5 separate regions of the Homo sapiens genome follow, and regions 2, 3, 4 and 5 are each linked to region 1. Evidence: fine-mapped expression QTL. A gene starts in region 1. Each other region holds a variant in brackets. All regions are shown on one strand. Distances are from middle to middle. Region 1 holds the start of SLC68A1 (solute carrier family 68 member 1). Region 2 holds the start of WBP1L (WW domain binding protein 1 like). Region 3 overlaps SUFU (SUFU negative regulator of hedgehog signaling). Region 4 overlaps SUFU (SUFU negative regulator of hedgehog signaling). Region 5 holds the start of ACTR1A (actin related protein 1A).

Region 1 (6,191 bases):
GCACAATCTATCTGTCCCATGGTCCAGGGACTCCGGTATGGCTCAATGAGTTAGGGAGGTGATATGGCCTCTAGTTCATTGCATTTCCCCTCCCAGTTAGCTCTGTGACTGGCAACCACAAAGAGAAATCAGACAGAATCACAAGGCCCTGCCCTGATGCTGACATAAAAGGTAACTGGCTACGTTGTCTATATAATCAGAGGGTTGAGGGGCCTCAGAGTGTAACTGTGGGGCATTAAGTGCAACGTGAGAGACCAAAGGTCTTTTCTTTTTTTCTTTTTTCTGTTTTTCTTTTTTTTTTTTTTTTAGCCAGAGTCTCACTCTGTCGCTAGGCTGGAGTGCAGTGGTGCAATCTTGGCTCACTGCAAATTCCGATTCCCTGGATCAAGCAGTTCTCCTCCCTCAGCCTCCTGAGTAGCTGGGATTACAGGCACACGCTACCACGCCCAGCTAATTTTAGTATTTTAGTAGAGATGGGGTTTCACTATGTTGGCCAGGATGGTCTCGATCTCCTGACCTCGTGATCCAACCACCTCAGCCTCCCAAAGTGCTGGGATTACAGGTGTGAGCCACCTTGCCTGGCTGTGAGGGACCAAAGGTCTTTTCTCCTGGGTCACATCCAGCTCTGGCCCCTGCCAGCCCTCCCCATTTCCATTTCCCCACTGGATACCCAGGGAGGGCTAAGTAAAGACTCGGGTTTGCTTTGAAATAAAAGCACATGCTGGCCACAGATAGAAAGGCGGGGAGACTCCTTTAGCAAATGTATGGAGATCCCAGTGTGCCGGACCCCAGGCTGAATGCTGGGTTTTCTGTTCTCACAGCCAGGAAAGCACAGATGGAGGTAAGAGGTGAGGAGAGGGACAAAATGATCACCTGTCTTCTACTCATGAGGCTTTCTGGATCAGGAGGAGTTTCAGCAGTTGTCTAAGTCTAGAAGAGAGATGGTTGTATGTATGTGTGTGCGTGTATGTGTGGCTTGGGGTGACATGGGAAGTGTGAAGGGTGTCCGAAAGAGAGAGATTGGGAAGGAGGGAAATGAGACAGGTTAGTGGGAGATGGATTCTGGGGGCAAGGTTCATGGCATCCCTGGGGGCTCCTCAGGAACTGGTTGAATAATCTGTAGCCCCTGGACACTAGGCGTCTACATTGGACCATTTGCTGTGGTTGTTAGGAGGAGGACAACATTCCTGTTGCAGGAAGTTAGCCGACAACCATCAATGAAGGTCATAAGGATGAGCAGTTCACAAAGCTCCTACACCCTTGTTTCTCATTTAATGTCTGAAAAATCCCTGTAAAGCATAAAACAGACTCACAAAAGGAGGGTCCCAGCCAGGTGCAGTGACTCACGCTTATCATTCCAGCACTTTGGGAGGCTGAAGCGGGAGGGTCCCTTGAGCCCAGGAGTTCAAGACCAGCCTGGGTAACATAGTGAGACTCCATCTCTACAAATAATTCTAGAAATTAGCCAGGCATGGTGGAGTGAGGTGGTGGTCCCAGCAACTTGGGAGGCTAAGGTGAGAGGATCATCTGAGCCAGGGAGGTGGAGGTTACAGTGAGCTGAGATCATGCCACCACTGCACTCTAGCCTGAGCAACAGAGCAAGACCCTGTTTCAAAAAATAATAATAAAGAAGTCCCTTAGCAAAGAAGTGTTGGAGCTAGGGGTTGAGTTCCAAGTCCCCCATAAGGCAAAGGCCACAGGCTTTTTGCCCTGTGTCCCAAGGTAGGGGAACCAGGCAGAGCTGGAATGTGTGCTGTTTGCTTGCCCAAAAACCTATCCAGGCTTACAGGCCAATTGGGAGAAAACATAAAACATCCTCCACAGCCTACATTGAGCCAAACAAAACTTGATTTTGAGGGATTGTGCAGGTGTGGGAAGAGGAAAGACTCTTGTTATGGGAGTCAGGATAGCGGGTTCCACCTCGACTGGGCCCTTGCTGTTTGCGTGTCATTGAATCTCTCTGAAATGCAGTTTCTTCACATATAAAATGTGGATAAAAGCGCCTACCTCCTAGGAATGATGTGAGGACTCAACAAGAGAATGCACGTGTTGTTCTGAATGTAGTACGGTGCACATAGCAAGCACTCAGTACTCCTTAGGTTTTATTATTGCCGTTATTAATACAAAGAGGTTGTGCTGCATGGTTGCTCATTCAGGCCCTGGTGGCTGTTTCCCACCTTCAGCCCTGGCTCCTGTGGCTAGAGCCCTGGTGCCCACAGCTCAACCTGGACCTGTCCACCCTTGAAGGGCTCATGATGCAGCATCAGGGAGTCCCAGATCGAGCCGCTGACACCTCCAAGTCGGCTGCAGCTGTGCATCCGCTCAGACCACAAGACTCAATGGAGGATGCTGACCTCTCTTTGTTCTCCCAACGAGTACTAGGCAAGGAGGGAAGGAAGGTGAGCGCTTAGAAAAAACGTGTTGGTTTCAACTGAAATGACATTAAGCTATCGTGGAGGTAAAGGAGAGGGGTTGAGCCGGTCAGGAATCCAGGCAACCTGACCCTATTTGCCAGTGTCCGCTTTTAATTTTGGTCGCTAAGGGCAAGCGCCCGTGACAAACATGGCGGCGGCAGCCTCAGGCGCAGTCACCTGCCGGAGCTGCGCCCGGGGGCCGCGCGGAGCCAATCGCTGGGCGGGGGCGGAGGGAGAGGCTGGGGAAGCCCTAGAAGTGCGCGCAGGCGCATTGGCTCGCACCTGGCTCCCGCCAGCCGTGGGATTAGGCTTCGCCGGCTACGATTGCGGTGAGACGCTGGCCAGCGGCCGGGGCTCGCGGGCAGGAGCGGGCTGGGCTGGGGCCGATCTGGCACAAACGACAGACCCGAGGGGGAGGGGAATGCTTTGCGCTCTGGGAGTCATGGGGGCTATCTGCGGGGGTCTTTGGGGTGATCATATTGTGGATTGGGAGAGTTGTGTGGTCCGGGCGGAAGAAGCGGGGTTCAAGGGGGCAAGGGTGGAATCCTCGCAGAAAGGCTCTCCGGGGGTCTGGAGGAAAGGGATGCAGTGGGTCAAATAGCTCCCTGGTGGTCTGGGATCGAGGGATGCACTGGTCAGGTCGGGATCCGTGCCATTAGCATAAAGGCATTTAACCCTGGTGGCACTTGGGGAGCTTTGAAAAACACCGATGCTGGGCCCGCCCGAAGAGATTCCGATTTAACTGTTCTGGGTGAGGCCTGGGCCTCGGTATTATTGCACAGCTCCTCAGGTGATTTTAACGTGCAGGCGGTGGGGAGCAGCCCTACACGTGTTTCAGCACCAGCTATTGAGTGAAGAGCTCCTGGGCTGATCCCAAACTCCTCAGTGGCTTGGGAGGGGTGGGTGGTCCTGAGGTGAAGCTGTCGCCTCTTCTGGGACCTGTGGGGGAGGGAGAGGGAGAAGGTCCCCATCTCAACAAGTTGAAAGCTCATTTCCAGCCGGAGGAGGAGGATGGGCCCCCACCCCCCAACCCTGGTGCTAGACCCTGCTGTGGGGAGACTGGGCAGGAAGACAAGACCCCGAGAGTGAAACAGGAAACACAGCAGACAATTCAGGGGTCAGCTGCCTGTTGAGAAAAGGGCACATATTATACCTTTCATGTTCATTTGTTCATTTGGTATTCCTGAGGATAGGCAGAGAATGGAATTGTTTTCTCTGCTTCACAGATGTAGGAATAGACTCAGATAGTAAGTTAAAGATAATGTTCACACCTGACCCAGGGCTCCTGACTCCAAATTATGCCTCTTCTTAGCTTTTACCTCTGCACTAATGTCTCTTGTACAGTCTGATACCTCTCACTCCAGGGGCCCAGTTCGGCATTCTTGGTTTCCGCCACTAAATTCATCAACCTCCCCCACCCACCATAGGTTGGTTCAGAAATCAGGGAGATGTTGCTGCTTCCATCCCTTTCTAGTCTTTACCTACCAGGGGCCTGGTAGGGTGAAGGGGAAGAGTTTTGACACCTGCTAGAGGGCTTCTTCCAAACAGATCTGTCACTTCCCCACCCCCAGCGCCCCACCTGTTGTCCTCAGCATAGAATCTTGCACAAGGTTTACAAAACCCTTCCTGATGTGGCCCCTTTCTCCCGCGCTGCTCTGAGCTCTCTTCCCAGATTGTTTCTGTGTCTCTTAGCACAGTGCTGTGCACCCGGCGAAAGCTTAATAAATGTTCCTCTGTTATGATCACTATTCTTCTTTGTACCTGCTGCCTTGCTTTAGTGTCTTACTCAGAGAGGCACATCAAGCCTCCCAGGCTGCCCCTTCTCTCTGACTCCCACAGTTAAGCAGAACACAGAGCTAGGAGGGGCACAGTGGGGTCTGAAGATGACAGTTTTCCTATGACTGCTGCTGCTGTTCCCTAGGGCTGAGGATGTTGTTGATATTGACCTTTTAGGGGCCAATCGACCCAGCAGGGATTGACTGAGCAAGCTGAGGGAGCCTGGTGGAGGCAAAGGGCAGGGATCAAGGGCGGGACTAACCCAGCCCTGCTTTTTTTTTTTTTTTTTTTAAGAGACGGAGTCTCACTCTGTCCTCCAGGCTGGAGTGCAGTGGCGCGATTTCGGCTCACTGCAAGCTCCTCCTCCCGGGTTCACGCTATTCTGCCTCAGCCTCCCGAGTAAGCTGGTACTACAGGCGTGCCCGCCACCACGCCTGGCTAATTTTTGTATTTTTAGTAGAGAGGAGGTTTCATCGTGTTAGCCAGGATGATCTCGATCTCCTGACCTCGTGATTCGCCCGCGTCGGCCTCCCCAAGTGCTGGGATTACAGGCGTGAGCCACCGCGCCCGGTATCAGCCCTGCTTTTAAGAAGCCTGTGGGCTGGAGGAGGGGAAGGGAGGCATTTGGATGCCTGATAAGGGGGAAAACGGGAGAGAACACGTGATTGGGTGTGCTTGGGAAAGCCGTGACACTGGATGAGCAGGATTTGATAAGATGGGGGCAGGGTGTGGGGGGGATGATGAAGTGAGAACGCTGTTGTTTTAGTCAAAACCTGTTTTGAATCTTGACTCCAGCACCTACTAGCTTTGTAACTTGGGCCTGTTATTTAATCTTCAGAGCCTTGGTTTCTTCATGTACAGAACGTGAATGCAGATAGTAACAGAGCTGTAAGGGGTCTGATGATGGATATAAAAGCCAAGCATACCCTGTATGGCTGAGGAATAGTATATAGTTATCCTAGGGTATCTTAGGTGACAGGAACAGCATGAACAAAAGTGTGGAGGTGGCATTTAGAAAGGAATTTGATGGATGGCAGACAAGAGGGGCTAGGATATTCCAGGTGGCAAAAGGCATAAAGCTTGGGTGCTGGAAAGACAATTTCAATCATGGATTTGGCAGAAAGGTCAATGATTTTTATTTTTGATTGATGTTGCCCCAGCTGGTCTCTAACTTCTGGCCCCAAGTAATCCTTCTGTCTTGGCCTTCCCAAGTCCTAAAATTACAGGCATGAGCCACAACGCCCCACCTAGTGACTGATCTTTAAAGATCATGAAACCACACGGTGGCTCTCGCCTGTGAGCCAGCACTTCAGGAGGCCAAGGCGGGCGGATTGCTTGAGGTCAGGAGTTCAAGACCAGCCTGGCCAACGTGGCGAAACCCCGTCTGTACAAAAAATACAAAAATTAGCCAGGCATGGTGGCGCACGCCTGTGATCCCAACCATTTGGGAGGCTGAGGCAGGAAAATTTCTTGAACCTGGGAGGCGGAGGTTGCAGTGAGCCAAGATCCCACCACTGCACTCTAGCCTGGGCGACAGAGTGAGACTCCGTCTCAAAAAAAAAAAAATCATGAAACCAAACTTCAAAGAAATGGAAAGAAAATGGCTACTGTAGGCCGGGCGCAGTGGCTCATGCCTGTAATCCCAGCAGTTTGGGAGGCCAAGGTGGGTGGATCACAAGGTCAGGAGTTCAAGACTAACCTGACCAACATGGTGAAACCCTGTCTCTACTAAAAATACAAAAATTAGCTGGGCGTGGTGGTGCATGCCTGTAATCCCAGCTACTCGGGTGGCTGAAGCAGGAGAATTGCTTGAACCTGGGAGGCAGAGGTTGCAGTAAGCCGAGATTGTGCCACTGCACTCCAGCCTGGGCAACAGAGCGAGACTCTGTCTCAAAAAAAAAAAAAAAAGAGGAAAAAGAAAAAGAAAATGGCTACTGTGGGCCAGGCATAGTGGCTCACACCTGTAATCCCAACACTTTGGGAGGCCGAGGCAGGTAAATC
Region 2 (6,191 bases), 280 kb after region 1:
AGAATCCTAAAGGTTTCCTGACTACAGGTACATGCCACCATGCCCAGCTAATTTTTAAATTTTTTGTAGACAGAGGGCCTCACTATGTTTCCCAGGTTGGTCTTGAACCCCTGACCTCAAGCAATCCTCATGCCTTGGCCTCCCAAAGTGTTGGGATTACAGGCGTGAGCCACTACATCCCACCTGGGGTTTCTTAGTGATGATGAAACCTAGCCTTTATGTGGAAGACTTACAACTTTTTGAGGCCAGGAATTAGAGACCTTGTGCCATGAAAATAATTTGGTCCTTCCCTAGTACTCAATTTTTACTTCTCCTCTAAGGAGCTTGACTTGTGGAATGGATAAATTTCTAAGAAACGAGAGATTGGCAAAAATACGTGTCACTTTTTATAGTACTTGGAAAAGCAGGATCAAGATAAAGGCAGAACTATGGACTTTCTTAAGCTGAGGGAAGACTGACTTAACTCTTACCTGTTTCCCATTTTTCCAACACTTAAGCCAAGAACAACTTCCTCTGGGCTCAGATGTGGGCTAGACTGGGCCAGGCTGTAAAACACTTTGACAGGTTTTTGAGAGGAAATTGACTGCTAAAGTCAACTGTGTTATTTGCCATGGGTCTTCCTTTGTCCATTTATTTTACCAACTTTTTTTTTTCTTTTTTTTTTGAGACAGAGTCTCACTCTGTCACCTAGGGTGGAGTGCAGTGGCACAGTCTTGGCTCACTGCAACCTCTGCCTCCCAGGTTCAAGCGATTCTTCTGCTTTAGCCTCCTGAGTAGCTGGGACTACAGGCATGCACCACCACGCCTGGCTAATTTTTTGTATTTTTAGTAGAGATTGGGTTTCACAATGTTGGCCAGGCTCGAACTCCTGACCATGTGATCCGCCCACCTCGGCCTCCCAAAGTGCTGGGATTACAGGCAGGAGCCACCGCACCTGGCCTTTTTTTTTTTTTGAGACAGGGTCTCACTCTGTTGCCCAGGCTGGAGTACAGTGGCACAATCAAGGCTCATTGCAGCTTCAATCTCCCTAGCTCTGGTGATTGTCCCACCTCAGCCTCCCAAGTAGCTGGGACTACAAGTGTGCACCACCATGCTTGGCTAATTTGGCTAATTTAGTTTTTTTATTTTTGTAGAGACAGGGTTCTCTCCATGTTGCCCAGGCTGGTTTCAAACTCCTGAGCTCAAGGGATCTACCTGCCTCAGCCTCCCAAAGGGCTAGGATTATAAGCATGAGCCACCACACCTGGCTATTTTACCAACATTGATCAAGCTCTGGTTGAGCCTTGTACAGGATATTATAGGCTTTAAAAGAAGAAGAAGAAAGACCTGGTATGCTGTACAAAAAACTGCAAACCAGGCACGCAGATATAAGTGTTACAAGAATCCAGAAGAAGCAGCAAGGAGATGGGGCTAGGAGTTTGTAAGCAGGGAACTGTATCTGTAATATGTAAATGAAGTTACTGGGCATCTCTTCAATGGTCAGTGTGAGTGGAATGTGTGGGAAAATGTAGTGGTGAGAGGTGAGATAAAGAGAAGTAGACAGGGACGAAGTCACAGAGAGGACCGTGTTGGGAAGTTTGGACTCTCTATTCTGTAGGTAGATGAAGTATTTAAAAGAAGAGGCCATGATATAGTAATATTTGGTTTAATGTGGTATGGTTGTAGTGTGTGGCGGAAATTTGAGAGGAAGAATTGTCAACTTGCAGGGCAGCAGGGAAGCCATTTGTATTTAGCTAGAAGAACATGGATTGAAGCAATGGATGATGGATTTCAGAGCAATTTGTGAAGTAGAACCAGAATTTTGTCCGTCGAACTTGGGGTGACGAAGCACTATGCCTCAGATAAAGGTACTATCTTCTAGGGAATTCAAACGGACCTAAGCTGCTATTTGGGCAGTTGAGACCAAGAGAGGCATCCTGGTAATAGTGCTGTGCTTCAAGACAAAAGACATTAAAATATTTTTACATTGCAATTGTTTTCCTCTTCAGGAGCGCCTGGTTACCTTTCAGGAATAATTTATTTTCCAACACCCTTGAGAAACATTAAACCTTTTTTCTTTTTTTGATGTGGAAAACTGGAAAACTAGTACTTCCGCCACACTCAAGATGGCTACATCAGAAATAGACTTTTCCATCCACCTGGGTGGCCCCGCCCCCTTATGAAGCTGCTTCCGCCACTCTCTGCGGGTTGGGACGAATTTTACACTTCTTCGCAGCATTCAAGATGGTCCGGCTTCCTCCTACTTTTTATTGGCTGCATCGCTTCGTCTTCAGGGGAAGGCGGGACTTATATTTGATCGACAGCTACATTGATCAATGGACAAAGGGCAAAGGCCAATGAAGCGCTGGAACTGGAGAGTCTCTCGCGTGTCTGGGAGGGTGTTTTGCGCGGGGCGGGGTGGAGCAGAGCCGGAAGCGGGAGGGGAGCGTCAAACAGGAAAAGAAGGGAAGAAGGAAGAAGAGGGTAGAGGAGGAGAGGGAGGAGGAGGAGGGAGGTGGCGGCGCCGTGGCGGAGGAGCAGGAGCAGGAGGGGGATGGAGAGGAGAAGGCTC[C/T]TGGGTGGCATGGCGCTCCTGCTCCTCCAGGCGCTGCCCAGCCCCTTGTCAGCCAGGGCTGAACCCCCGCAGGTAAGGGGGAGGGGGCGTCTGGGCCATGTTGGGTCCTGGGGGTCGTCGAGGCCTGGCTGGAGGGGTCTGAAGGAGTGTTGTTGCCAAGAGTTGAGGGGTCCCGAGAGGGGCGTCTATGCCTGGCGTGGACAGGATCTAAAGGGGCGTCGGTATTTAGCTGAGGGACACCTGTGACAGTTTTGGTGTCAAGGAGGTGGCAGAGGCATGATGCCAAGCGAGTGAGGGGCGTTTGAGACGGCAGGTTGGTTAGGTGGGCTGGGGTGACTGTGGCTGGATAGCGGTGCCAAGCTGAGGATGTGGGCCTTATTCGTGTCCCTCTGTGGAGCAGGTGTCCCAGGCAGTAATGCAGTATGTACGTCTGTGTGTGTAGGGGTACACAGGCTATTGAGTTGGCCTGTGAGGGAGGGGATCCTGAGGATATTTCTTTAAGGATGGACTGGGGAAAGTTCCGAGGGCATCTTAGTACGTTTAAAAAAAATTACTATGTTCCTGGGAGAGACTTGGCCCCATTTTAAAATCTGTAAGCCATGGCGCACTTGGTTGGAGGGAGGACTCTCAGAAGGCAGGTGGGATGAAACAGAGTGGAACCCCTCAGGAGGAGGAGCACACTTGAGCTGTAACAAGCTCTTGCTGTTAGGCTGGCTGGCCTGGGAGAGCAAGTCACGGATGCTGATCTGAGCCAGCTCAGGGCTTTTGACCAGAGGGTGGTTCTGATGCCAATATGGGCAGCAAATGGAGCACCCTAGCTTTTCTTGCTGGGTGGCTTGCTCTTTATCCAGGCAGAGAAGCTTGCTTGTGCTGATTCCAGCTCCAGCTGGCATTTCAAAACCCTAATGGGAGCGTTACTCCTGGTGCCAAGTTGGGTGGGGTGCAGTGGGGGCAATCACCCCTCCTTCCTTGCATGTGGCAAAGCTTTATGATTCTTTTTTCTTCACTTTCTGTTCTTTTCCCCGTTTTTTCAGAAAGGCATACACACATAGACGCATAGCGTAGTGGCAAAGTTTATACAACTTAGCGCTTGAACTTGTGTTGTGAACAAGAGCAGAAACTGAGTGCCAGCAAAAATACTTATCTTTTCCCTAGGAGTTTTAGGGCTGCCTTTTCACAAATACATCTTGTTTTGCCCATTATCCTCTATTTTAAAATACTGATTAAAAAATAAGTTGAAATTCACATGACAAAAACCATTTTAAAGTGAACAATTCAGTGGCATTTAGTACACTTACAATGTTGTGCAACTACCACCTCTATCTAGTTCCAAAACATTTTCATCACCCCAATAGAAAACCTCGTCCCTACTAAGCAGTTACTCTCTGTCTCCCTTTTCCCCCAGCCCCTGGCAACCACCCGTCTGCTTTCAGTCTCTATGGATTTATCTATTCTGGATATTTTATATAAACGGGATCCTACAATATGTGGTCTTTGTGCCTGGCTCCTTTCACTTAGCGTAATGTTTATAAGGCCCATCCACATCGTAGCATGTACTAGTACTTCATTCCTGTTCATGACCAAGTAACATTCTGTTATCTGTAAACCACAATTTATTTATGCATTGAAGTGTCTAATTTTTCCTCAGGATATGTTTGTGTATACTAGAAATACCATGTGAAAGGAATGTAGCTCATTTTCTAGCCCAGTGTATTCCCTTTTCGAGGGTTGGGACCCTTCTGTTTTAGCCTTTGTTGGGGTTGTTTTTCCAGTGGAAATCATAAACTGGCAGAAGAAATATATTTTTTTTGTTTACTAGAAATGTTATAGCCCTCAGGACCAGTAAAGTTAAGTATAGGTATTGACAACAAAATATAGAATATAGTAAATACAGAATTTACTTTTCCTTTGCACATGTCTGTTTCTGTAAGTATCTCGAAAAGGCTGTCCCCAGTAACCAATAAATAACATCGGTAGAGGTTTGGTTTAGGAATGTCAGAGCCTTTGGAGATGGGCTGGTCAAAGATAGGAACTAGATCCACTTTTTCAGCAACGGGGATGATGGAAAGTGGAGGTTCCTACCAGGTCGTGGAGCCTGGGAGGTGTTGTGAACATGTGGAAGGGGATTGTTAATGTTATATTCTAATTGCAGTTTGCAAACCACAGGCTGCTTTCTTATATCTGTGGCACTTCTAATACTTAATTTTGGGGACAGGTGTCTTTTGTACTTTGTTCCATTTGGATGAATGCTATCACTGACCAACAGCTGTTACACGGTTACAATTCCTGCAGAGAAGGGAAAGTTTTCGTAATGAGCAGTGGCCCTCTTCCTAACCAGCCCCCACATACCCTCACTCCTGACGCTCCCTATACAATTCCATCCCCCACCTTATACTCCTGTCTCTTTCTGTCTGGGAGTACTAGATATCTATAGTGAGATTTCTGTTTTGAATTTTAACCTTCGGAATGCAAGTTACTATATAATTATTAACTCTGAATCCACCGCAATTTAGTCAGTGTATTTTTTTGGGTTTTTTTGGGGGGGGTGGGGGAAGGGGTTGCTTGTACAAATCAGTAAGGAAAAAAAAATCCCAAGGCCATTTTGGCACAGGGCATACTTTAAGTACCCATGGTCCTTAATTCAACAATGAAGTCCAGCTAACTTTGAATTCAGGAGGACTTACTATACTCATTCTGTATCGAATAATGGTATTGGTACCTTATTGCATTTCTCCCACAAAATTGATCTACTTACAATACAATCTTTTTTTTACATGCACAATCTTTTTTTTACATACACATTTACCATCAGAAATAAATGATACTAGGCAACTTGCTTTCCCTGTTACCAGCTCTGCACTGAAACAGCCATTTCTTGTTTATGCAGGCAGGCCCTGGAAAGTTCATCAGCTAGTTCATTCTGTGGTTAGGAACTTAGACTTAACTCTCCTACAGGTTATGACATTACAACTCACAGACGTGAATCCTTAAATCTATAAAGAATGAAAAAGGCTGGGCATGGTGGCTCACCCCTGTAATCCCAGCACTTTGGGAGGCCAAGGCAGGCAGATCACAAGGTCAGGAGATCAAGACCATTCTGGCCAACATGGTGAAACCCTGTCTCTACTAAAAATACAAAAATTAGCCAGGCATGGTGGCACACCTGTAGTCTCAGCTACTCGGGAGGCTGAGGCAGAAGAATCGCTTGAACGTGGGAGGTAGAGGTTGTGGTGAGCCAAGATCATGCCACTGCACTCTAGCCTGGTGACAGAGCGAGACTCCGTCTCAAAAAAAAAAAAAAAAAAAAAAGAATGAGAAAACAGTAGATGCTCCAAATAGTAAGGCTCCGACAGCCTTGGCGTTTGTTTCCTCCAGTTAAATTATCATTGAGATACATAGAGTTTCTTTTGGTTGTTTAGATTTAACCAGAATGTTTGTTTTTGTTGTTGTTGTTTTTGTTTTGTTTTTGAGACAGGATCTCACTCTGTTGCCCAGGCTGGAGTGTAGTGGTGTGATGTGATCTTGGATCACTGCAGCCTCGACCTCCCAGGCTCAAACGAGCCTCCCACCTCAGCCTCCTGAGTAACTGGGACTACAGGTGCATGCCACCACGCCCTGCTAATTTTTGTATTTTTCTGTA
Region 3 (6,191 bases), 110 kb after region 1:
TGCCACCACACCCGGCTACTTTTTGTATTTTTAGTACAGATGGGGTTTTGCCATCTTGCCCAGGCTGATCTTGAACCCCTGACCTCGTGATCCACCCTCCTTGGCCTCCCAAACTGCTGAGATTACAGGTGTGAGTGAGCCACCATGCCCAGCCTTTTTTTTGTTGTTGTTATGGTGAAAAGATATACATATATTTAGAATTACCCAGCTGGACTCAGTTTAAATGATCCCAATTTTGTTGGCAACATCCAAAGCATCGTAATCAGGAGCCAGTCCAACATATGCCTTCTTCTCTCCATCACGCTGAATCAGGGTGTTGACCTTGGTCACATCAGTGTCATAGAGCTTCTTCACAGCCTATTTGATCTGGTGCTTGTTGGCTTTAACATCCACAGTGAACACAAGTGTGTTGTTGTCTTCTATCTTCTTCATGGCAGACTCAGTGGTCAGTGGAAACTTGATGATAGCATAGTGGTCAAGCTTGTTCTCCGGGGTTGGTCTTCTGAGGGTACTTGGGCTGCCTCCAGAATCGCAGTGTCTTGGGCCGCTGGAAGGTAGGTGACGTGCGGATCTTCTTTTTTTTGTGGCTGTGGACACCTTTCAACACTGCCTTCTTGGCCTTCAAAGCCTTTGCTTTGGCTTCGGCTTTAGGAGGAGCAGGAGCTTCCTTCTTTGCTTTCGGCACCGTCTTGTGAAAAGGGCCTCCATTTTAATTAACACAAAATCATCTACTTTGGCCTCACAGCCGTTAGAATGGCTACTATCAAAAAAAGAAAAAACAAAACAAAACAGAAAATAGTATGTTAGCAAGCATGTGAAGAAATTGGCACCCTTGTACACTGTTGATAGGAATGTAAAATGGTGCAGCTGCTGTGGAAAATGGTCTGGTGCTTCTTCAGAAAGTTCAAAATGGAATTACTGTATGATCCAGCAATCTCACCTCTGGGTATGTGTCCAAAAGAATTGAAAGCAGGGACTTGAACAGATATTTGTGCACCAGTTTTCATAGCATCCAAAAAGTGGAAGTAACTCAAGTGTCCATCAACAGATGAATGGGTAAACAAAGTATGGTATATACATATAATGGAATATTACTCAGCCTTAATAAAAGGAAGGAAATTCTGCCACATGCTGCAGGCTACAACATGGATGAACCCAGGAGACATTATGGCAAGTGAAATAAGCCAGACACAAAAAGACAAATATTGTATGATTCCACTTACATAAGGTACTTAGAGTAGTTAGGTTCATAGAGACAGAAGGCAAAATGTTGGTTTCCAGGGGTTGGAAGCAGTGGAATGGGGAGTTACTGTTTACTGTATAGAGTTTCAGTTGGGGAAGATGAAAAAAAGTCCTGGAAATGGAAGCTTCTTATGGTTGCACAACAATATGAATGTACTTAATGCCACTTAAAAATGGCTAAATTGGTGAATTTTATGTTGATGTATTTTACTACAACTAAAACTGAAAAAAAAATTAATAAATGATTTGGGATGTTACTTTACATCTTTAAAATATCTTTACTTTTGCCATATTCTGTTAGCAAGAAGCAAGTTATAGGTCTCGCCCACACTTGGGGGAAAGTATTAGACAGGGCTTGAGTACCAAGGGGATTGGGGACCATGGGGGCACCTTAGAGTCTGTCTGCCACATTTCCTAAAACTCAGAAGCAAAATAAAACAAGTGAAATTCACAGCATACCAAATTGGTGTCAAAACAATATACAGAGATCTTAAACTATAGTAATTTGTCTGTATATCCCTAATATATACACAAAGACAGAAAAAACTGTTTTCAGTAATCATGTTGTTAATAAAAATATTGACTTTAACCTAAAACTAGTATATGGATATAATAGGATAAAGCAAATAAGTAATTATGTTAGAAAGCAAGATGTTCAGCATAAGATTAGAAAGATACAAATATATGGCCAGGCGTTGTGGCTCACATTTGTAGTGCCAGCTGTTTGAGAGGCTAAGACGAGAGGATTGCTTGAGCCCAGGAATTTGAGCCTGCAGTGAGCTGTAATTGTGCCACTACACTCTAGCCTGAGTGACACAGTGAGACCTTGTCTCTAAAACAGTAATAAAATAAATAAAAGATACAAATATAAAATCAAATAAGTAAAAATGTTATATTCTTAAATTTGGATTCTAATTAGCAAGATGAACAAAAGATGTGTTTTCTCTTTCTTTTAAAAAAAATGTATTTTATCTTCGTCACTAAAAAAGCCTTGAAACAGGCCGGGCACAGTGGCTCCTGTAATCCCAGCACTTTGGGAGGCCAAGGCAGGCGGATCATGAGGTCAGGAGTTCAAGACCAGCCTAGCCAATATGGTGAAACCCTGTCTGTACTAAAAATACAAAAAATTAGCCCGGCATGGTGGCATGCACCTGTAGTCCCAGCTACTCAGGAGGCTGAGGCAGGAGAATCACTTGAACCCGGGAGGCGGAGGTTGCAGTGAGCTGAGATTGAGCCACTGCACTCCAGCCTGGGTGACAGAGCAAGACTCTGTCTCAAAAAAAAAAAAAAATTAGGCATGGTGGTGTGCCTGTAGTCTTAGCTACTCGGGAAGCTGAGGTGGAAGGATTGCTTGAGCCTAGGAGGTTAAGGCTACAGTGAGCCATAATGGTGCCACCACACTCCAGCCTGGGAAACAGAGCAAGACCTTGTCTCAAAATTTTTTTAAAAAGCTAGCCTGGTTGAAAATGCCAGTGGTGCCATTTTAGTTGCCAGCCAAGGATGGCTCCTAATGTTCTAGTCCATTTTCTGCTGCTTATAACAGAATATCTGAAACTGCTAATTTATAAAGAAAAGGAATTTATTTCTTACAGTTATGGAGGCTGAGAAGTCCAAGGTTAAAGGGCCCCATCTGATGAAGGCCTTCTTGCTGGTGAGGAGTCCCTGCAGAGTCCCAGGGACATCACATGGCAAGGAGGCTGAACTTGCTAGCTCAGGTCTCTATTCTGATAAACCCACCAGTTTCTACCCCCATTGTCCACCTCTGTGATAATCCATTAACTTATTAATCTATATATGAGGGCAGGGCCCACATGACCCAATCACCTCTTAAAGGCCCCACCTCTCAATACTGCTAGATTGGAGACTGAGTTTCAACATACCTTTTGAAGGAGGCAGACATTCAAATCATACCACCTAGCTTCCTGGCATGTCCAGATTAGTGCCACTGCATTTGGAGTGATGCCACAGTAGCCAGTGTGATGGCTGCTGGTGCCACATAGCAGAGGGGTCAAGGAGGAGGATCATCTTTCCAACATTAAGTATATAGATAATACATAAATAAATTTCAGATTTTTTTTTGGAAACGGGGTCTCTGTTGGCCAGGCTGGAGTGCAGAGGC[G/A]TGATCTTGGCTCACTGCAGCCTCAACCTCCCGGGCTCAAGTGATCCTCCCACCTTAGCCTCTGAGTGGCTGGGTCTACTGGCACATGCCACCATACCCCGCTAATTTTTCTGTGTTTTTTTTTTTTTGTAGAGATGGGGTCTTGGTATGTTGTCCAGGCTGGTCTTGAACTTCTGGACTGAAGTGATCCACCCACCTCAGCCTCCCAAAGTGCTGGGATTACAGGCATGAGGTACTGCAACTGACCTCAGATGTTAAAAACTTAGACTATACAGATAAAGTCAAAGTTCTCTGTGACCACCCCACCCAATCTCAGGGCCCTCGCTAAAGAAACCCTCTTTATCCATTTGGTGTGCGTCCTTGCAGCTTGCCAGATTTTTTTCTATGTATTCACCTTCTTCTGGGTACCTATGAAATGGTTTGGGTTTCTATGTTTTTTTTTCTTTCTTTAATGTAAATGAAACTGTACTGCCCTTCACAATTGGATTTTTCAGTTGACGGTATGTCTTGAAGATCTTTATTTAATTTTTTTTACTGTTGTCTGTGATTTTATTGTATGAATAAACCATAATTTAACTATTCCCCTGGTGATGCACCTTTAGGTTGTTGCCATTTTTGCAGTATTACAAACAGTACAAAGATGCAGTGACCATCCTTATTCATTCCTCCTTGTGACATGTTTTGCTCTAGGGTAGATATTTATAAGTAGAATGATTGGGTCAAAGGGAAGTTACCTTTTATATTAATAGATTCTGCCATTTGGTCCTCCAAAGTGACCATACTAGTTTATAGGTCCATGGCAACTAAATGTTTTGTTTTGTTTTGCAGTGACAGGGTCTTTCTCTGTTGCCCAGGTTGGAGTGCAATGGTACAATTATAGCTCACTGTAACCTGGAATGCTTTGGCTCAAATGATCCTCAAGCCTCAGCCTCCCAAGTAGCTGTGGAACTACAAGTGTGCACCACCATGCCTGACTAATTTTTAAATTTTTTTGTAGAGACAGGGTCTCACTGTGTTGCCCAGGCTGGTCTTGAACTCCTGGTCTGAAGCGACCTTCCTGCCTCAGCTGTGGGATTGCAGGTGTGAATCACTGTACCCAGTCTAAATGGGTTTTCATTCCTGATTTAACTGGTCTCTTCAGGAAGAAGATGGGAGGAGTAGAAGCATGTCCTGGATTTTTTCTTTTCTTTTTTTTTTTTTTTTGAGATGGAGTCTCACCCTGTTGCCCAGTCTGGAGTGCAGTGGCACCATCTTGGCTCACTGCAACCTCCGCCTCCCAGGTTCAAACGATTCTCCTGCCTCAGCCTCCTGAGTAGCTGGCATTATAGGCGTCCACTAACACGCCAAGCTAATTTTTGTATTTTTAGTAGAGACAGGGTTTCACCATGTTGGCCAGGCTAGTCTTGGATTTTAAAGCTTCAAAGGATTTCCTGGGATTTTTTTTTCTTGTTTCTTTTTTTTTGGAAATGGAGTCTCACGTCTTACTCTGTCACCCAGGAGTGCAGTGGTGTGATCATGGGTCACTGCAGCCTCCCTCTCCCAGGGCTTAAGTGATCCTCCCACTTCAGCCTCTGGGACCACAGGCATGTGCCACCACACCTGGCTAAATTTTGTATTTTTTGCAGAGGCAGGGTTTTGCCATGTTGCCAAGGATGGTATCAAACTCCTGTGCTCAAGTGATCCACCTACCTCAGCCTCCCAAAGTGCTAGGATTACAGGCGTGAGCCACTGCACCCAGCCCTCCTGGCATTCTTTGGTTGAAATGTATATAGGACTACGAGTTGTTTTTTTTTTTTTTTTGAGACGTAGTCTCGCTCTGTTGCCCAGGCTGGAGTGCAGTGGCACGATCCCGGCTCACTGCAAGCTCCGCCTCCCGGATTCACGCCATTCTCCTGTTTGAGCCTCCTGAGTAGCTGGGACTACAGGTGCCCACCACCATGCCCGGCTAATTTTTTTGTATTTTTAGTAGAGATGGGGTTTCACCATGTTAGCCAGGATGGTCTCCATCTCCTGACCTCGTGATCTGCCCGCCTCGGCCTCCCAAAGTGCTGGGATTACAGGCGTGAGCCACCGTGCCTGGCCAGGACTACGAGTTTAAAACCTCCTTAGTCCCTTTGGCTTTAAGAACAAAGAGGCTGGTGGCTCATGCCTGTAATCCCAGTACTTTGGGAGGCCGAGGCGGGTGAATCACGAGGTCAGGAGATCGAGACCATCCTGGCTAACATGGTGAAACCCCGTCTCTACTAAAAATACAAAAAAATTAGCTGGGCGTGGTGGTGGGCGCTTGTAATCCCAGCTACTCGGGATCGCGCCACTGCACTCCAGCCTGGGCGACAAAGCGAGACTCCGTCTCAAAAAAAAAAACAAAAACAAAAAACAAAGAACAAAGAGGCTTGGGGCCAGGCATGATGGCTCATGCCTGTAATTCCAGAACTTTGGGAGGCCGAGGTGGGTGGATCACTTGAAGTCAGGAGTTCGAGACCAGCCTGGCCAACATGGTGAAACCCCATCTCTACTAAAAATACAAAAATTAGTCTGGGTGCAGTGGCACCTGTAACCCCAGCACTTTGGGAGGCTGAGGCGGGTGGATCATAAGGTCAAGAGATTGAGAACATCCTGGCCAACATGGTGAAACCCTGTCTGTACTAAAAGTACAAACATTAGCTGGTCATGGTGGCGCGTGCCTATAGTCCCAGGTACTCGGTAGGCTGAGGCAGGAGAACTGCTTGGACCTGTGAGGCAGAGGTTGCCGTGAGCTGAGATCATGTCACCGCACTCCAGCCTGGCGACAGAGCAAGACTCCGTTTCAAAAAAAAAAAAAAATTAGATG
Region 4 (6,191 bases), 67 kb after region 1:
TCATAAATTTTTAGAGCACATTACCTAAATATCCAGTGCTTTCTTAGTGCTGAGGATACCATGGAAAGCAAAGCAGGCAAGGTTTCTGCTCTCATGAATCTTATATTCTTATTGGAGAAACATGAAAAATTTTATATAGTTTTAGATAGTACAAGTGCTGTGTTGAAAATAAAGCAGGGCCCCAGCTACTCAGGAGGCTGAGGTGGGAGGATCACTTGAGCTCAGGAGTTCTGGGCTATTATGCACTATGCCAGTCAGGTGTCCACACTAAGTTCAGCATCAATATGGTGACCTCCCAGGAGCATGGGACCACCAGGTTGCCTAAGGAGGGGTGACCTGGCCCAGTAGGTCAAAACTCCTGTGCTGATCAGTAGTGGGATTGTGCCTGTGAATAGCCACTGCACGCCAGCCTGGGCAACATGGGGAGACCCTGTCTCTTAAAAAAATGAAAGTAAAGCAGGGCGCCAAGTGTGGTGACTCATGCCTCTAATCCCAGCACTTTGGGAGGCCACGGGGGGGTGGATCACTTGAGCCAGGAGTTCGAGAGCAGCCTGGGCAATGTGGTGAAACCCCATCTCTACAAAAAATACAAAAATTAGTCAGGCATGGTGGTGCGTGCCTGTAGTCCCAGCTACTTGGGAGGCTGAGGTGGGAGGATCGCTTGAGCCCAGGAGGCAGAGGCTGCAGTGAGCCAAGATCGTGCCACTGCACTCCAGCCTAGGTGACAGAGTGAGACCCTGTCTTAAAAAAATAAATAAAATTAAAAAAGCAGGGATGGTACTCTGGAGCTTACATGGGTAGAAGTAGTGGTTGAGGTGGGTGGGGAGGATGCTGTTAGCAGTAATCAGTGATGGCTTCCTTGAAGATTTGAACTGAGACCTCAAAGACCGGTGGCAGCCAGGGCTGTCACATTGTACAACTCTAGGGCCACCGTTCACATTATTCTGTGCAATTGCTGCCCCCTGGAGTTGTACAATGCTGGGAGTCCTGATGAAGGTCCTAGGCAGTGAAACAGCTAGTATAAAGGCCCTGAGGGCAGCACGGACCTCGAAGTGTTTAAGGAAAAGAAAGAAGGCCAGTGCATCTGAGGCTTGGTAAGAGAGAACAGTGGAACAAGATGAGGTTGCAGAGTTTGAAGACAATGTAAAGAATGTGACATTCAATAAATTATAATTATTATTATTGTTTTTTTTTTTTTTTTTTTTTGAGATGGAGTCTCGCTCTGTCGCCCAGGCTGGAGTGCAGTGGCAGTGGTGCGATCTCAGCTCACTGCAAGCTCCGCCTTCTGGTGTCATGCCATTCTCCTGCCTCAGCCTCCCAAGTAGCTGGGACCACAGGCACCCACCACCACGCCTGGCTAACTTTTTGTATTTTTAGTAGAGACAGGGTTTCACCGTGTTAGCCAGGATGGTCTCGATCTCCTGACCTTGTGATCCGCCCACCTTGGCCTCCCAGAGTGCTGGGATTACAGGCGTGAGCCACCGCGCCCGGCCGACATTCAATAAATTATTTGTTGACTGATGAGGAAAGAAAAAGGATGATATGATGGAGGCTGGAGTGGGGTTTTAGGAAGCATTCCAGTGTGGGACCTCAGCTTTAGTATGAAGACAGGAGAACTGAGTTGAGTGACGGTTTTATTTCCCCAAAAAGGAAATAGTAGCAAAAGTGGCTCAAAGGAAATACCATTAAGATATATATATATATATGTATATTTATAGTACATCATGACATTCAAAGCCATGAAGATATTTGAATCTACTTTGATAGTGACTAAGAGGGAGGCACATTGCTTTTTAATACCATCTTATCTTGTTGAATGTCTCGGCTTGATTATCTCTTTGGGTGGCAGTGGGAATATTATTACCATTTAGCATTGCTCAGCCATGACATGATGTATTCATGTACAGAACACACAAAAAGTACAGTCCTTGCCCTTGGGGAACTGAAATGCCAAAAAGATTTGTTTCTTCCCATTGCCCTGTTTAGGTTTCTTGATCTTCTGGGATGGCTGGCTTCCCAGAGTTCTGGAGGAGAGTGGGTGGACAAAAGGCCCTTGGGTAGATGCCTTGCCTCTTGGGTCAGTAAGAAGTCCCCAAGCTGCATACTTAGGCACAGAGGGCACCTCGCTTCCCAAATCAGACTGTGATCTTGTCGCCATTGGCCTAGCCTGTCTTTTTTTATTTTTAAGAAGACCTTTGTAAAGGTGTTGCTTTAAGCCAAAGCCAAGAGTGGGAGCTACCATATTGATGCCAAGAAACCCAAGCACTGGGCTTCTTCCTTGGCCCAGAATTCCTGTAGCGCTCCAGGCTGGCTTAGGAGTCCCCTGGGGGCTGGCTGACCTTTGAGTTTGGGGGTGGTTGGGAGTAGATGGAAGAAGGTGCAACAGATGTCCAGCAGGGGATGGTTGAATGTGAGCTTTTACCACCCTGCAAGAAAGGGTCTGGTGCCCTTGGCTTAGAATTTCTAAAATTCAGTATCTTGGCTGGTACAATGGCTCACACCTGTAATCCTAACACTTTGGGAGGCCGAGGTAGGAGAACTGCTTGAGCCCAGGAGTTCAAGACCAGCCTGGGCAACATAGTGAGGCCTCATTTCTACAAATAATAAAAAAAATTAGCCAGGCATGGTGGCATGTGTCTGTAGTCTCAGCTACTCAGTGGCTGAGGTGGGAGGATTACTTGAGCCCAGGAGATCAAGGCTGTAGTGAGCTGTGATCACGGCACTACACTCTAGCTTGGGCAACAGAGTGAGACCCTGTCTCAAAAAATAAATAAAAATAAAATTCAGTGTCTTATTCCAGGAAACCCTTTGCTCACTGAAAGCCCAGGACAGAGTTAAGCTGCCTGAAGTGTTGGGAGCCGGAAGAGTTTATTTGACTGGATTCTCAGCCGAATCAGTGCTGGGAGCCACTGTTTTTGAACTTGAGGAATGCTGTGGGAACATGGTCTTTGGCTCCCAGCAAAATGTCTCAGGAACCATCTACTTGAGTGGGGCAAATGCATTCCATGAATCTGGTTGGTTGGGGTATAGCGCAAAGAAAGCTTCTATAACCCAGAGTTGCAACTCAAAGGTGGCTGCTGCACTGTAGCCTTATTGGACTCCCAGGTCAGAGTATGAGAGTGCAGTCTTCGCTGATGTGGCTTTTTTCCTTT[C/CT]TTTTTTTTTTTTTTTTTAAGATTATATAAAATTGATTAAATATAACGAGATTTATGGGTTTTTTTTCTATTATTTTGTTTTTATAACTGGAGGCTTAAAAGCTTAGCTATATCAGAATATTATCATATAAACATATTTCAAAAGTTATTTTTACAAAGTTTTGCTACATACAGTAGTATTTGTGTTGTCACCCAACACCATTTTCAAATGTCTAATAAAGTATCAGTAATTTTGAATTATAAATAAAAAATAATCTCTGCAGTTGTTTATTTAGTAGTTGTTGACTGAATTCTGTTGTAATGGCTGTGACTCAAAGCATCTCACAAAGGAAATCTCAGGTCTGGTTAGAAGGTTCTGGGAGGGACCCAAGGTCAGGAAATTGGGTGAAGCTGAAAGCAGCTTTTGAAGGACTGGGCTGATTAAGATCCAGAGCCCAGAAGTTAGGGAAGCTGGAGGCATCTGCTGATATTTTAAAGGATAAATGATGAGCAGAGTTTGCTTTGAGTGAGTACTAAGAAAAGGAAAGTTGCAGCCAGGCTCAGTGGCTCACGCCTGTAATCGCAGCACTTTGGGAGGCCTAGGCGGGTGGATCACGAGGTCAGGAGTTCGAGACCAGCCTGGCCAATATGGAAGGCTGAGGCAGCAGTGAGCCATGATCATGCCACTGCACTCCAGCCTGGGCAACAGAGTGAGACTTTATCTCTACTAAAACCCCATCTCTACTAAAAATACAAATATTAGCCGGGAGGCCAAGGCGGGCAGATCACAAGATCAAGAGATCAAGACCATCCTGGCCAACATGGTGAAACCCCATCTCTACTAAAAATACAAAAATTAGCTGGGCATGGTGGCATGCACCTATAGTCCCAGCTACTCGGGAGGCTGAGGCAGGAGAATCGCTTGAACCCGGGAGGCAGAGGTTGCAGTGAGCCGAGATCGCGCCACTGCACTCCAGCCTAGCGACAGAGTGAGACTCCGTCTCAAAAAAAAAAAAAGAAAAGAAAAAGGAAAGTTGCACACTAACTGCCGTGGAAGGGCACTTGCTAGGTGCCAGACACTGTGCTGTCACACTAAAACCTCCCACCCTATGAGATGAGTGTTCTTCTCCCAGTTTTACAGATGAGGAGCCTTGCACACATGGAAGTTAACTTGCCCACCAGTCAGCTAGAGAAAGGTGGAGCTGGGGTTTGATGGGCTCAGTTGCTTCCACAGCGTGTATTCTCGTCCACTTTGCTGGGCTCCTCTCTGGCATCTTATTGGGATGCTGGAGTAATATGTTAATAATTTCATGCAGTTTCCACCTAAGTCCACCCAGAGACCTCCAAAGGGTCCAAAGATCGTGAGACTAAGAATGTCTGACACCTGCCTTCCTCACTTCCCAACTTCCCTGTCTCTAAGCCAGGCTCAACACTCTGCCTAAGTCCTTCAGCCCATAACCTTGGGCTGGCATTTAGTTTCTCTTTACCTTTGTCCACTATTTTAAATCTTTTTTTTTTTTTTTTTTTTTAATGGAGACAGGGACTCACTCTGTTGCCCAGCCTGAGTGCAGTGGCACAGTCATAGCTCACTACAGCCTCAAACTCCTGGGCTCAAGTGGTCCTCATGCCTCAGCCTCTTGAGTAGATAGGACTTCAAGTTTGTGCCACCATGCTTGGTTAATTTTTAAATTTTTTATAGAGATGGGGTCTCACTATGTTGCCCAGACTGGTCTTGAACTCCTGGGCTAAAGCAATCCTACTGCCTCGGCCTCCCAAAGTACTGGGATTACAGGTGTGAGCCACCATGTCTGGCCTTCTGTGACTCTTAATCCCAAGGAAATAACCCAAATATGGGAAGGAAACGAGGTAATATGCACAAAAATATTTTCCAAGGCATAGCTTTGGAAGCAACCTTATGTCCAACAAGAAAGCAGTGGTCAAATAGAGGACTATATATGGTTTTCCTGGTTTTGTAATAAATGATAATAGTAATTATCAAGAAAATTGTAGTTTCTTGGCTGTGCATGGTGGTTCACACCTGTAGTCCCAGCGCTTTGGGAGGCTGAGTCAGGAGGATTGCTTGAGCCCAGAAGTTTGAGACCAGTCCAGGCAACATAGCAATACCCCATAACCCATTTCTACCAAAAAAAAAAAAAAAAAAAAAATGTAATCAGGTGTAGTGGTGCACACATGTAGTCCCAGCTACTCAGGAGACTGAGGCAGGAGGATCACTTGAGCCTGGAAGGCTGAGGCAGCAGTGAGTCACGATCATGCCACTGCACTCCAGCCTGGGCAACAGAGTGAGACTTTATCTCTAAAAGAATAAAAAATAAAAATAGTAATTTCTTAATTGTGTAAACTGACAGATCAAAAATTGGAGAGCCTTGGAGTCTTAACCAAGGGGCCAGGCACCCCCAGAGTCAACATCAGAAGCTCAAAATTGCAGGACTGGTTCAGCCTCATTACTCCCATCGCCCAGCCTTTGTAGTCCCAACTGGCTTTGCTGGACAGGTCACCTTTCTTGTTGAGCTGATGCCCATTCCTTTGTTCGGCTGCTTTCACTGAGCACTCCTGTGCCAGTCAGTGGGGTGTACAAAGGGGTAAATCCTGTCCTGATGGGAGAGATAGGCAGCTGCAATACAGCAAGGAGAGTCCTGTGATGGAGGTTTGCACAGGGGTAAGGAAGAAGTGATGAGAGCCCTCTCTTGGTCAGGGTCCCAAATAAGGGATTGGTGCCTTCAAAGTAAGATATTGGAGGAAGGTATATTTATAAAGGAATAGCATAGGGGATAGTGATGTAACCCAGGGCTAGTGGTTGGCCTGGCTGTCACTCTCCTAAGGCTGAAGGGACCAGAAGAGGGAGTGGGATCCAAGAACCTAGAGGAGAAAGTTGTGTTGAGTGTTCTTGAGAGTGACTGTTAGCAGTGACCTTCAATCAAGGGGCATAGCACCTCGGGCAATCCCAAAGGGAGGGAACTCTAGCCTCACTCTCCTCCCTTCTGCTGATTTCCTGTGAGAACTTTTTTTTTTTTTGAGATAGAGTCTTGCTCTGTTGCCCAG
Region 5 (6,191 bases), 39 kb after region 1:
TTGGGAGGCTGAGGCAGGAGGTTTGCTCGAGCTCAGGAGTTTGAGGCTGCAGTGAGCTACGACTGCAGCACTGCACTCTAATCTGGGTGATAGAGTGAGACCTCATCTCTAAAAAAAATTTAAAAACAAATAATAATTAAAAATTAAAAAAAATCATAGGTGGAAAGGAGCACAATTTTTTTTTTTAAAGAGATGGGGGTCTTGCTGTATTGCCCAGGCTGGCCTTGAACAACACAATTCTCCTGACTTATCTTCCAGAGTATAAAAGGAGGACAATTTTATGATGATGGTTGTTTTGCGGATTATTTGTAAAACAGAGAGAAAGGATAGGGTTGCCAGGCACAGTGGCTCATGCCTGTAATACCAGCACTTTGGGAAGCTGAGGTGGGAGGACTGCTTCAGCCCAGGAGTTCTAGATCAGCCTGGGGAACACAGGGAGACCCCATTTCTACAAAAAAAAAAAAAAAGGCTGAGCAGGTGGTACACGGCTGTAGTCCCAGCTACTTGGGAGGCTGAGGTGGGAGGATTGCTTAAGCTTGGCAAGCTGAGGCTGCAGTGAGCTTTGATTGTGCCAATGAGCCCCAACCTGGGCAACAGAGTGAGACCTTGTCTCAAAAAAAAAAAAAAGATAGGGTTGTGGAGGGGTACAAAGAGTCTTCAATTATATCTGTAATGTTTTATTTCCTTAAAACATGAAGGTGGATGGGAACACTAAAGCAAAAAAAATACTGAAGCAAATATGGCAACATCAATATTTACTAAATCTGGGTAGTAGACACATGCTACCTGGGTGCTTGTTATATACCACACCGAATTTTTCTGTGTGTTTAAAGTATCTCTCTCTCTCTTTTTTTTTTTTTAAAGGGGGCTGAAGCAGCACAACATCCAAAGCAAAACAAACAAATGCTTAGCTTATTGTTGAACTTCTGAAGAGCCTGCATTTAGGTCCATATAGTCACAAAGACAGTTTTAAGTTTGACAGGAATGTTGATCCATTTTAGGTTCAGGCAAAACTGTAAACTTAGAGTTTTTTTGTTTTTGTTTTTAAATAGGCTGGAGTGAGGTGCACGATCTCACTGCAGCCTCAAACTCCTGGGCTCAAGTGATTCTCCCATCTCAGCCTCCTACAGGTGCATGCCACCAAGCAAGCCTGGCTAATTTTTTTTTTTTTTTAAAGTAGAGATGAAGTCTCACTATGTTGCCCAGGCTGGTCTCCAATTCCTGGGCTCAAACGATCTTCCAGCCTTGGCTTTCCAAAATGCTGGAATTACAGGAGTAAGCCACCACATTTGGCCTGGATCTTAGGAAAAATTTGAGTTTCAGAATAAACATAGTATTCTGATCAAAGTGTAGTCCTCAAAATGTGGCCTAGGAGCTGCTCCTATCTTACACTATTCTCTATGTCTTTGGGAAGAAATGACTTATATTTGGTTTTAAAAAATATCTATCATCATAAAGCTTCTTGGGTGATTAAAAAAATACCTATCACTTTATTGTTGTCATTAAAGCACACACCTACCTGCCCCTCCATTTTCCTCATTAAATTCTGATGAAATGACTTGATGCCAGAGTAAGATGAAAGACGTGGTCACAATTGTCTTATGATTGGGAAAGGCTGTGAACTTAATGGGGCTCTTTCCCTGCTTTCTTTCTCCTGCATTCTTTTGATTATACTCTTCTGCCCATAAATAAAGTGTAGCAACATGTTAAGCTATGGAGTTAACATAGCTAGTGATACATTATTCTCATTATATGTAATAAGTTGTCTCAGGTATTTCAAATAATGTTTCCTATACATCTACCATCTTGAAAATAATAAAAACAAAATGACCCCCCAAATGTTAAACAACAAGGACTACCTGAGACCGCACATGTAAAAATGTGGCAGATTTTCAGCAAATACTAATAGGAAAATGACTTAAGTTTCTCCTACTTCACCTTTTGGCAGAAATACTGGCATAATAAAGGACATGTTTTCCCAGAGGGGGAAAAAAAAGACAAGTCAATTCTTTAAATCTTGAAACTAAAAATGCATCACTGCTGTAATGCATTTCGAAACATACTACCAGGAAAGAGAAAGAAAAAAATTAAGACGCATTAGTGTAAGTGATATTAAAGAAAATGGCCGGAGATGGAACTCCTGCCTAGCAATTCAAGAAGCAAAGGAGCTGGTGGGATAGACAGGTTGTTCCTTCTGCATTGCTGATGAAAACAGGAAATTGAATTTCTATATATTTTTCCTTTTTACAACTAAGAAAAAGGCAGAAGAAGCACAAAGAGCCTGGCTAAAGACAGAAATCGTAGTGCTCTCTGAAAATCAACATCAAGAACAAAAAGTCCTACTCAATTATCTGCAGTAACTAACTAGAGAAAACTCCCCATCTTTTCTTTATTTAGGAATATCTTTGTTACTTTGATAGAGATATTCAGTCATTCATCCAATCACCCATCAATCCAATGAAAAAACATTTATTGAGCACACAGAGGTGCCAGACCCTAGGTATACTGTGTGTGTGTGGAGAGAAGTGGGTGAAGTGAGACTAAAGGAATATCATCTTTCTTAAATTTTTTTTCCCAACACCACTAAACCTGTGGGAGAATATCATCTTTTTCCACAAGGATTTAATAGTCTAGTGAGGGAGACAAAAAGATCCTCTCAAAAATGAAGTATCTGGGCTGGGTGTGGTGGCTCATGCTTGTAATCCCAGCACTTTGGGAGGCCAAGGCGGGTGGATCATTTGAGGTCAGGAGTTCAGGACAAGTCTGGCCAATATGGTGAAACCCCATCTCTACTAAAAATACAAAAATTAGGCCGGGCGCGGTGGCTGACGCCTGTAATACCAGCACTTTGGGAGGCCGAGGTGGGCGGATCACGAGGTCAGGAGATCGAGACCATCCTGGCTAACACGGTGAAACCCCATCTCTACTAAAAATACAAAAAATTAGCCGGGCGAGGTGACGGGCGCCTGTAGTCCCAGCTACTCGGGAGGCTGAGGCAGGAGAATGGCGTGAACCCGGGAGGCGGAGCTTGCAGTGAGCCGAGATCGCGCCACTGCACTCCAGCCTGGGCGACAGTGAGACTCCGTCTCAAAAACAAACAAACAAACAAACAAACAAACAAACAAACAAAAATTAGCCAGGCGTGGTGGTGCACATCTGTAATCCCAGCTACTTGGGAGTCTAGGCTGGAGAATCTCTTGAACCTGGAGGCGGAGGCTGCAGTGAGCTGAGATCGCACAATTGCACTCCAGCCTGGGTGACAAAGCGAGATCCTGTTCCCTCCACCCCCCCACACCAAAAAAAGAGGCGTCTCTGCCAGGCACGGTGGCTCAGGCCTATAATCCCAGCACTTTGGGAGGCCAAGGTAGGAGAATCGCAACAGCCCAGGAGTTTGAGACCAGCCTGGACAACATGGTGAAACCCTTCCTACAAAAAATACAAAAATTAGCCAGGGGTGGTGGCGCGTGCCTGCAGCCCCAGCTACTCGGGAGGCTTAAGCGGGAGGATCACTTGAGCCCAGGAGGTTGAGGCTGCAGTGAGCTGTGATCGCGCCACTGCATTTCAGACTCAGCAACAGAGCGAGACCCTGTCTCCAAAAAAAAAAAAGAAAAAAAAAATGAGCTGTCTCATTGAGCTCAATCCTGCCCCTTTCTAAGGGGGAATAATAAAAACAAAATACCCATGGAGAGAAGGAAAATTTAATGAAAACAACAACAAAAATATATTGGAAAAAGCAAGCAACTTGGAACTGGATCTTAGTCTGATGACTGGCTCCTCAATTCCTAAACTGGATGGTTTGAAATCTGTTATTTAACATCCCTGCATACACTGGGGATAGTAATTCCTATCTACCTAACAGAGCTGAAGCTTAAACGAGAACATTGTAATATGCCTAAGGTCCCAAGAGCTGAATCAACAAAGGGAATCTGACAGAGTCAGCTTACAACAGAGGGAACTGGTAGTTTTGCCTCAATGGAGGGACCTACAAGGGACACAGACAGGGATCAATCTCTGTGGGACCAAAGCTTTGAATCGAAGGCAGAAATGCAGTCGTTTTACAATTTTCTCCTTTCCCCCCAAAATAAGAGCAGTATTTAGATTCTTTCTATTGGTCAATATTGATG[C/T]TTCTGCATGGTGGTGCTGGCAAAAGGGATGACGGATAAAGTACTGGATTTAGGGCACCTCTGCTATGTGACCTTGGGCTCACGTTACGTCTTCGCGCTTCAGTTTTCTCATCGGTAACACGAAGATCAAAGTTCCTTTTAAACTATGCGTCCAGTTTTTGTGAGGATCCAACTCGAATGTATGTGAAAACGCCCTGGAAGCGCTAGAGCGCCAGGCAAATATTAAGTTTGGTAATTTTTTCCCCGTAAGAACTAGGCGTTCCAAAGAGGAGGACAACCTCTCTGCTTCCTTTGTCACTCTCCTTTCTTCTCGACCTTTACCAACTTTGTAATTTATAATCACAGTAATAGCTGACATCCTACAGCGGTTTCTGGCACCAGATTCTCGGGCCCCACCCAGATCCACACCACCAAGCCGCAGCGCCGGCTGAGACCGAAGGAAAACTTAGCCGTTCTCCACCCGCGGGCGGGCACTCGCCTCTAGGCCCCACCACCCAGAGTCCCGGAAGCCAATCCCCACAGCCCTGGAGCACTGCCCCGCCCCTTCAAGAGGGAAAACAATATGGCGGCAAGGAAGAATGGCAGGGGCGTGAGCCAATCACCGCAGAGGCCTAGCCTCATCCGGCAAGGCTAAGAGGCGGTATCATTGGCTAAGATGGACAGCCAGAGCAACCAATAGAGCGATCGGAAATGGGGGAGAGGGCGGGCGACGGGAATCTCACACAGCGGTTAAGGCCCCTAGAGCCAAGGGCCCAAGGACTGGCTTGGACTATAACTCTTTCCTTTATCCACTCCAGAGTTCTCCATCCCACTTTTGCTGGCTGGCCGCCTTGCCTGCGGACTATGTGATAAGGGGAGGAAGGAGGCGGCGGTGGCTGAACGCGCCTGACAGGCCGGGCCAGTGACAAAGAGCCGGCGGCTCAGGCTGAACCCCGGGAAGCGATCCTTTCGAGGAGGAGAGCCCAAGTCCCCTTATAGATAGGAAAGACGCAACTCACGTTGTCGATCACGACAGGCTGGTTGGCGATCACATCGTAGGACTCCATGGCAGAGGAATCTCTCCTTCTGGGGAAGGAACTGCCCAGCCGGGTCCGCCGCTAGCGCCACTGACACGCATGCGCAGTCTAGCCGCCGGTTCAGGGCGGCGAGGGAGCGGCCCGACCTCGCCTCTGAAGAACTACAATCCCCAGCAAGCTTTGCGCCTGGGTTAGCGATCTAGCTTGCTTTGTTGCCCGCCTAGTTTAAGATTGGGAGTCGCATTTCCAATGCGCAGTACCCTGGGATTTGTGGTCTCCCTAGATTAAACAGCCAGAGACACAGGTTGATGGTCATGTTGCATGCCTGGATCTGTAGTCCCTTTGAAGGAGTTCGCAGTGCATGCTGAGGTATGTAGTCTTCTCGAGTACTTGTCTGTAGTTCGGTTTGGATTGGTCGTAATTCATGGATGTTTGGATTTTGCAGATCAGCCCTGCCACTCCCCCCGACGTTCCCTTAGACAATATAAGGTTCTCATGTTTTTATTTGGGTCTGTAAGACTTTAATAAACATCTCCTAGCACCTCACACTCTAACAAAAAGGAAATGTTAACACACGTACGCGAGAGGACATATTCCTACAACAAAGGAAAACAATTTAAATTGCATAAAATTAGCTTTAAGTTTAAAAACCTGTACATTGTCGTTGCCTTTTGCATTTTCTTTTTTTCTGCATAACAGGCTAACATTGATCCGAAGATTGGCAATTGGAACTACTGGTATAGGTAATCTTTTGGTCATTAAAACATCATCTAAGGGTTTCAGAAACTGCTCGAGTATCTCTTTAATTTTCATAACGAGCTAGAATTGACACTGATGGTTGAGAAAATGGAGGTGAAGAGAGGTTATGTGTCACTGCTTTCAAATGAGCCCAGTGCATTTTTTTCTCTGGATTATGTTCTCCCCCAGCCCCCTTGAAATTTCAGGGACCTTTTTGTCAATAGCCCTAGAAAACATTAGATTTATTATCATCTATTAATACTAACGCCCCATGGATGAATGAATCAATCCATTGTCAGATTTATGTTTAAAT

What was found.
Region 2: its variant is fine-mapped to the expression of SLC68A1 in whole blood (TOPMed, PIP above 0.99).
Region 3: its variant is fine-mapped to the expression of SLC68A1 in whole blood (TOPMed, PIP 0.98).
Region 4: its variant is fine-mapped to the expression of SLC68A1 in prefrontal cortex (BrainSeq, PIP 0.95).
Region 5: its variant is fine-mapped to the expression of SLC68A1 in whole blood (INTERVAL, PIP 0.90).

The regions. Positions count from the first base shown.
Region 1 is chr10:102,458,708-102,464,898 of GRCh38, forward strand. SLC68A1 (solute carrier family 68 member 1) reads left to right here and starts at 2,688. Exons shown (of 10, transcript NM_024789.4): 1 at 2,688-2,743. It overlaps LOC124902493 (a long non-coding RNA gene), which reads right to left. Exons shown (of 3, transcript XR_007062270.1): 3 at 2,086-3,353. RefSeq lists enhancers at 2,207-2,276, 2,404-3,087, 3,088-3,770 and a silencer at 2,547-2,766.
Region 2 is chr10:102,741,521-102,747,711 of GRCh38, forward strand. SFXN2 (sideroflexin 2) reads left to right here. Exons shown (of 12, transcript NM_178858.6): 12 at 1-1,972. WBP1L (WW domain binding protein 1 like) reads left to right here and starts at 2,428. Exons shown (of 4, transcript NM_001083913.2): 1 at 2,428-2,623. The coding sequence starts at 2,534. RefSeq lists enhancers at 2,075-2,124, 3,065-3,294 and a silencer at 2,405-2,564. The variant C/T (reference allele first, on the strand shown) is at 2,552.
Region 3 is chr10:102,572,538-102,578,728 of GRCh38, forward strand. The region is part of intron 3 of SUFU (SUFU negative regulator of hedgehog signaling); the gene reads left to right. It also overlaps the pseudogene RPL23AP58. Among named protein-coding and RNA genes, the nearest start is that of TRIM8-DT, 68 kb to the right of the region's middle. The variant G/A (reference allele first, on the strand shown) is at 3,362.
Region 4 is chr10:102,525,809-102,531,999 of GRCh38, forward strand. The region is part of intron 2 of SUFU (SUFU negative regulator of hedgehog signaling); the gene reads left to right. Among named protein-coding and RNA genes, the nearest start is that of SUFU, 25 kb to the left of the region's middle. The variant C/CT (reference allele first, on the strand shown) is at 3,153.
Region 5 is chr10:102,497,478-102,503,668 of GRCh38, forward strand. ACTR1A (actin related protein 1A) reads right to left here and starts at 5,235. Exons shown (of 11, transcript NM_005736.4): 1 at 5,123-5,235. The coding sequence starts at 5,170. It also overlaps a transcript of SUFU not described here. RefSeq lists enhancers at 3,219-3,719, 5,114-5,213 and a silencer at 5,564-5,633. The variant C/T (reference allele first, on the strand shown) is at 4,125.